Homo sapiens: one gene and its partner. The protein of the gene in region 2 purifies or fractionates together with the protein of the main gene of each other region. This does not show direct contact. Each region holds a gene or a part of one and is shown on either strand. Other genes may lie near its edges.

Region 1 (3,500 bases), on a different chromosome or scaffold from region 2:
GTGCAACAGTGTGATATAGCTCACTGCAACTTCTGCCTCCCAGGTTCAAAAGATTATCCTGCCTCAGCCTCCCGAGTAGCGGGTATTATAGGCATGTGCCACCATACCCAGCTAATTTTTTTAGTAGAGACGGGGTTTCACCATGTTGACCAGGCTGGTCTCAAACTCCTGACTCAGGTGATCTGCCCGCCTCGGCCTCCCAAAGTGCTGGGTCTACAGGAGTGAGGCACCGCGCCCAACTAATAATTTCAATTTCTATACAACTCCTTATATCAACCATGTAAGAATATACAATAAACATTAAATTAACACAAGAATAAACGTTTTCATTTTTTTGTCTGCATTCTTGATTAAAGACCAAAAGAAGAAGTCTATTAATTAATAGTGAGTCTATCTATCTTTTTATTGTATTAGAAGAAAGTGAAAACCAGAAAAAGATGCTTACCATAGCAACTTTGGCTTCATAATCATTGGAAATCTGGATACAAACTTCTTCAGCTCTTGCTTGACAAGCTCTTTCTACCACATCTTTCCACTGCTTTTGCACTACGGAACGCCAGACTTTCCAGACTTTCTTCAGTAAAGTTCTCTGGTAGTACTGGTCAGCTAGTTTACCTTCATAAACCTAAATAAAAGTAAAATATAACTTCAAAAACACAGTTGATTGATAAATATATTGGTAGTAATAATAAACATAACATGGTGGTAAGTGTACATATACACATTATTTAATTCTATGTAATCATATTATTCTCATCTTGCATATAGGAGAACAGGCTTAGAGAGGTTAAGCAAGCTACGTAGTTCACATAAGTAGATGAGTAAAGCCAGACTTGCCTGACTCCAGAGACTGAGCTCTTATCCATTACATCATTGCTTTATGCAACTAATCAAGTTAGAGAAAAAGAATACAACCAAATGAAAGAAAATGAGCAAATCACCACTTGCCATCTTAGTTATGAATTTAGCAGGACCAGGAGAATAACAGAGTGGCTAGAAGGCAGGAAATGGTGGTGGCTGTGGCTTCAGATGACACTGCTTTCTCTTCAGTTTGATGGCCACCACAAGCAAGATTTAATTTATAAACCCTGCCATCATATATGGTGCCAATCCAAATAAAAACTTATGCTATTTTTCTTTTATCAATGAATTTAAATTCTTTTGAAGAAGTAGTTCCAATTCTCAATTTCTTCAGTTTGAAAAACTATCCAAAAGTGACAGTAGCCTCAACTATTCTGGCTAACATTTAAAAATAAATATGTATTCTCATTATTTCACTTGACAAGTTTCAAAGTAGAGTATAAATATTCATTTTAACCAGCTTACTTAATGTGGATTTAATCTACTGGGATTAATTAAAAAAATGAAAAATCCAGAAAGTATTCTTAAAGGAGAAATCTTATTCCAGGATAAAGTAGGTTGAGCATCTCTAATCCAAAAATCTGAAACTTTTTGAGTGTCAGCATGACACCACAAGTGAAAAATTCCACACAGAAGTACTTAACACAAACTTTGTTTCATGCATAAAATTATTAAAAATATTGTATACAATTACCTTAGGCTATATGTATAAGGTGAAATATGAAACATAAATGAATTTTGTGCATAAGGTGTGATATGAAACATAATCTAAAATCCAAAATTCTCCTGGTGCCAAACATTTTGGATAAGGGATACTCAACCTGTACTAGCTTTTTCCTTAAATACTAATCTCTTGGAAACTAAATACACAGAGATTATTCCATAGCTCACATGAATATACATGGAAAGCATATATATATATATTCATCTCCTATATTCATGTGTCTCTAAACTATGTCTTGTTGTGGGATATACTCATACTTTTCCACTTTTGATACAACAATTTAGTATTCTCTTTCAGTTCACTATTTACTGATATACCAACTCAGCTCTTACTTAAAATAAAAGATGTTCAAGTTTAAATGATATACTACAAGCTAAGGATAACTTTTAAAAAGCTGTACAGGTATGGCTTTCTCTGACTCTCACTCTAAGGCAAGTCTACATAACAAACATTTATACTGTGATTTAATGTATAAATATAGTAAAGCCTCTTTATGAATAAGTTGTATTCAGGCATTTTAAAAGTAGAAACAATATAGGAAGCATTTGATATGTTAAACATAACTTCTTTCTCCAATAACCACATCTGAGGGGGTTCTATTACCAGGGCCTTTACAATTTAGGAACAATCCTTATTAACCTACTATGAAGCAGGAAATGATGTATCTATTGTAATATATATATATTATATGTCAATAAGATCTAAACTGTATTTTTTCCAAACTACATCAAAATCAAATTCCTTTGAAATAAGAGGAACATTAAATCACAAATTCATTTTGACTTATTAGAAAACAACTATAATAAGTGATCCTGAGCACTTCTGAATTCAGAAGTCTAACATCCATCAGCTGTCTTCTGCTTTGACACTTACATCCTGTCTGGCTCTGACATGGCCGATTCGCCAGTGGAAGAATGTTCTCATCAACTCTATCTTTTCCTTTTGCTTGCCTATGGCATGAGACAAGCTAGAAATCACCTGTAAACAGCAATTAACCCAATTATTGTGATATTAAAATAACAGCAATTGGTAAAGTGATTTTCTCATATATCAAAAAATGCTAGAGAGGATAGGTATGGATCACTACTATATTCATTCAGTTAACCTCATTATTATCTTTAAAAAGATGGTAAAACTTTCTCACATGAATATACTAGATATCAACTAATGAAAGGGAACAAAAGAAGAAGGAAGTCTTCATTATGTGTATATGGTAATCACCAATAAAAAGTTTATGTATATGCAAATTAGCTACTGACATTCAATTCAGGTAAAACAATTATACATTTGAAAGTTCTCCTATATACACCATGTCTTTATTCACTAGATTTGAGGGCAGGGGCCAGAATATTTAGATATTTAAATATCTTTCTGGTCCCTACTACTATCTTGGATATAGAAGTTCCTCAACGACTGTCCAATGATTTTCTGGATTAAACAAACCTATAAAAGCAAATAATAGTTATATATGTAACTATTAATATGTTATAGTTATATATATAACTATATATTATATATGTTATATATACCTATTAATAACATGTTATACATATAACTATTAATAACATATATAACATATGTCATACATAAAATGTTATATATATAAGTAAATATATATAATTAATGTTATACATATAACATATTAATAACATTATATATAACTAATGTTATTAATGTTATATGTTGATGTACTTCTTCAGTGATATTATTACTCTTGTTCTTAAAAAAAAATTCAGAAGGCTTTAAAATCCTAAGATAATATTCTCTCTTATAAAAGAACTGAATAACTGAAATAAATTTCTAAAAATAGTCACATTAGAAAGAGATTTTGTAAATTGGGCACATTTACCAAGAGATATTTATAACTGCTCTTTAAATAATTTCCAGAGAGGAAAAGGGCATACATTCTAAGCTA
Region 2 (4,202 bases):
GTCTAAAGCCAACAGGAACATTTCTTGGGCTTTTCATGATGTTGGTGAACAACATTAAAGATAGGAGACAGTTTCTTCATGAGAACAGATTTAAGTTATAAGGAGAGTCCACCTCCATAAGCTCTGCTTCTTTCTGGATGGATCAACCAGGTAAAGATTTTTTGTCAGCCACATGAGGCCCCCATCTATTTAGCTCCTCTGATTTTACATGACCATTTCAGATAACAGACCCCGTTAAGAATGTATCAAGTACTACTGTAACTCTTGGCCAAATTGCTATTTGGCACCAAATCAATCTTTAGTTGGTGGTGAGACTCCAGACACATAAACAGATAATCTTCTACGGAATACTTTCACTGTGGAAAGAGAATCAGGAAAGGCTAAAGGGATGTTTAAAAATCAGACATCAGGCTGGGCATGGTGGCTCACGCCTGTAATCCCAGCACTTTGGGAGGCTGAAGTGGGTGGATCACCTGAGGTCAGGAGTTCAAGACCAGGCTGGACAACATGGCGAAACCCTGTCTCTACCAAAAATACAAAAATTAGCGGAACACGGTGGTGGGTGCCTGTAATCCTAGCTACTCGGAAGGCTGAGGTAGGAGAATTGCTTGAACCCGGGAGGAAGAGGTTGCAGTGAGCTGAGACTGTGCCATTGCACTCCAGCCTGGCCAAGAAGAGTGAAACTCCCTCTCAAAAAAAAAAAAAAAAAAAAAAAAAAGGAAAAAAATCAGCCATCGGATAAGGTGTCAGGCACCGTGGCTCATGCCAGTAATCGCTTGAGCCCAGGAGTTCAAGACAAGCCTGGGCAATATAGAGAGACGTCATCTCTACAACAAAATAGAAAATTAGCTGGGCCTGGTGATGTGCACCTGTGATCCCAGCTACTTGGGAGGCTGAGGTGAGAGGGACTCGACCCCAGGAGGTTGAGGCCACAGTGAGTTGAGATCATGCCACTGTACTCCAGCCTGGGTGATGGAGTGAGACCCTGTCTCAAAAAAAGGGATCGGATAAGGACCAAAAAACAGAGAGATCCTGAAGGGTCAAGTACTATACAGATATTTCATATTGGTGAGTGTATTCAAGTATCCATTTATTTTTCTCCTAACGACTGCTAACAGCTAACAGCTACTGATCATTTTCTTTGTGCCAGGAACTATATTAGGCACTATACATCAATATCTTATTTAATCCTAATAACTCACCACACAGGTACTACTATTATTCCCATTTTTAAGGATGAGGAAACCAAGGCACGGAGAAGTTAAATAACTTAATGACACGCCTGTAATCCCAGCACTCTGGGAGGCAGAGGCAGGAGGATTGCTTGAGCCCAGGAGTTCAAGACCAGCCTGGACAACATGGCAAGACCCCCATCACCATTAAAAAAAAAATTAATCAGAGTTAGTAACATGGCAGAGCTAAAGCCTGTTTGACTTAGAGAGCCTGAGCTTAGCTGCCTTCCTAACCTGTAAGAATAACTCGCTCAAGAAGTTAAATAAATGTTTCTGTTGTGTCACCTTTAGACTACCACGCTGATTTTGTTTCCTTTTGGCTTCCTTCCATCATTGAGTGCCTTTTATGTTCCAAGCATTGTGCTAGGGGCTGGGGAAACCACAATACAGTGTGATGAGTAAAAACAGAGGCTGCAGAAGGTAGCCCAAAAAAGGGAGGAGTTATCAGTCGCAGGGTGGGGAAGTGCTTTAAAAAGCTTTGCGCAAAAGAGGTTAAACTGAATTCCTTGGGTTTTTTGTTGTTGTTGTTTTCTAAGTGGGCCAGAATTGACTCAACAGAGGGTGGGAAAGGGGAATGGAGGGAACAAAGTAAAAAGTGGTGACTTCTAGATCTTTCAACTAAACCCAAGGCAAACTGACCCAACAACCTTTGTTACACACTTTAACACAACACTCTTCATACCCTAGATCTGAGAACTGTTAGATTATTTACAAACGCTACCTCCCTTCGTGGTCCTGATGAATTCCCAGTGAGGTCCAATCTGCCCTGGCAGGCTTCCGCTCATTTTTGTTACAAACAATACACTAAACCCAACCTACTAATCATCAAGGGCCTGGAACAGGTTTTGGACATTCGTCCCCAGGCTGCTGAGAACTGTTCTAGTGATGACAGTTAGAAAGGGTAGCCCTCCGAGGCAAAAAAAATGAGACATCTTGATTTTTTCTCTCCGCATCTGGGCGCGGCGATAAGAAGACATCACTGGTCTCCATCTTTCCAGGGGGAAAGGCCCGAGCTGCATTAGCCCCGACTGGGGAGCTGGGTAAACAGCCCACGCCCGGGAGAGGCCTGAGGGAAAGTGACCTCCCCCGGGGCCCAGGCCGACCAGCGGCGCAGCTGCTCGGCCGCCAGATGCGCGGACTCGCGCACTCCCTCGCCGCGCCCGGGCATTCCCAAGCCCAGCCGCCCGCCTCGGCCCCGACCCCTCGGCCGCCACAGCACACGCCGTTCCGCTCGCAAGATGGAGGCGAAGGCACGAGGCGCCCCCGCCCCCCAGGGAGCCTTTGTGCCCTTGCCGGCGGGGACGCGAGGCCAGACGGCCCGCACCGCAAGGGCCCCGCAGGCACCGAAGAGACGCGGGGGAGGGGGCCGGGCGCGCGCGCGGATCTAGCCCGGGCCACCGCCCCCAGCGCCGCGGCACCCCCGACACCAGCACCCGCACGCGGGACACTGCCTACCTACCGCACCGCGAACGCTTCGCACGTCCGGAGCGGTCTCAGCAGCCCCATGCGCTGGCCCCGAGCTGGCGGACCCTGACTGCAACTGCGGCCCTCCAACCGCAGCCCAAAACGCGCAGGGCAGGACCGAGCGCCAACCACGCCCTTCGGCCGCGCTGACCACGCCCTTCTTCCCGCCCCTTCTCCCTCCGCGGGAGGGCTTTCGGCAATTTCGCGCAGCGAATCGCAGCTCTAAGTCCGCGGCTCCACCAATACGTGGACGCTCCTGCAAGATGAGCCCGCCCCCTACTTCGTCCTGGCCTATGGGAAGCCGGGACTTCTTCAGCGGCTGTCCTCCCTCGCTTTTGGAGCTCCGACCTCAGCTTCGCCTGCGAGCTGGGTTGTGTAAAGGCTGGTCATTTTGGGGCGCTTAGGGGTGGGTGCCGGGGGGCGCGCTTTCCCTCGTGAAGGTCGCTCCAGGAGTCATGCGTACATTCGTTCATTTTGCTCTGGACGCACTGATGTTCCCGGCTCGCCGCCGTGCCGCAGTCACGAGGCTCTCCGAACGCCTTTCACTGTGTTTCTGTTTACATTCGCGTCTGCAAGACCCGGCGGCGCGACCGAGGCCCGAACAGGTGCTGCGAGGCGGGGCGGGGAGCCAGTGCTGAGGGGAGCTCCCCAGGCCGGGTGGTTGAAGACAGCTTCTGGGGGGAGGTGGAGCTCTGGCTCGTGGAGAATGGGAAGGGTGTGGAAAATGAACTGGTAGCTACTTAGCCACTCTGAGCAGCCTGCTCTGATGGGAAATCGGTGATGGAGTCGGAGGGAAGTGGGAGGCAGCTTGTGGGAGGCCAGGGTGCTCACTCTCTCCCCTGCCAGCATGGGACCTAGTAACTTTCATACATCTCTATCTATCTATCTATTTTGCAAAGATGGGGTCTTGCTGTGTTGCCCAGGCTGGGCTTGAACTCCTGGACTCAGACGATCCTCCCGCCTCGGCCTCCCAAAGTGCTGGAATTACAGGTGTGAGCCACTGCATCCCATCCCCTAGGAGCTTAATGACACTGCCCTTTAGCTTTTACTGCTTAGCAGAATCCGGAGGCATAGAGGAACTACCACCAGGGTGGCGTGGGGAAGAGGCCCTCCCTTCTGATGATTTTCTCTCAGCAGCACTTTCAGCAATCTGGCTTCAACTGAATATCTCCCCAGTTCATAAAACAGGCGTCTGTAAATGTCAACCCCAGCTGGGTGCAGGGTACAAATTTTTTCCTACAGAGCTCTTGAGTCCCAGGTAGTTTAGGAGACAAGGACTTGTTTGGTTTTCCCAGACCTGTCAGGACAGCTCAGAGGTTTTGTCTAACCCAGGGGCCACAAACTTTGGACAACAGCAGCAGCTAGCCCACAGATGGTTTTATTTGGGCATCGCATAGCTTTTCTTTGTTTGTTTGCTTTTGTTTTTTAATAAGAATTTGAATCCCACCACCACCACTGGTCCATTAAGTAACAGCCAGCCTTCACACATTTGCTGCCTACCTGAAG

Evidence for each region. The genes of interacting proteins can lie anywhere in the genome.
Region 1: the proteins of CEP68 (region 2) and POC5 purify together in Homo sapiens (co-immunoprecipitation; one large-scale study listed by IntAct). This does not show direct contact.

What each region holds. Positions count from the first base shown.
Region 1 is NC_000005.10:75,689,938-75,693,437, forward strand, and holds part of POC5 (centrosomal protein POC5), read right to left. Parts: intron 2,564-3,500; coding exon 2,459-2,563; intron 626-2,458; coding exon 446-625; intron 1-445. UniProt on the Homo sapiens protein: Essential for the assembly of the distal half of centrioles, required for centriole elongation. Acts as a negative regulator of centriole elongation.
Region 2 is NC_000002.12:65,055,014-65,059,215, reverse strand, and holds the start of CEP68 (centrosomal protein of 68 kDa), read right to left. Parts: upstream 2,801-4,202; 5' UTR 2,688-2,800; intron 1-2,687. UniProt on the Homo sapiens protein: Involved in maintenance of centrosome cohesion, probably as part of a linker structure which prevents centrosome splitting. Required for localization of CDK5RAP2 to the centrosome during interphase. Contributes to CROCC/rootletin filament formation.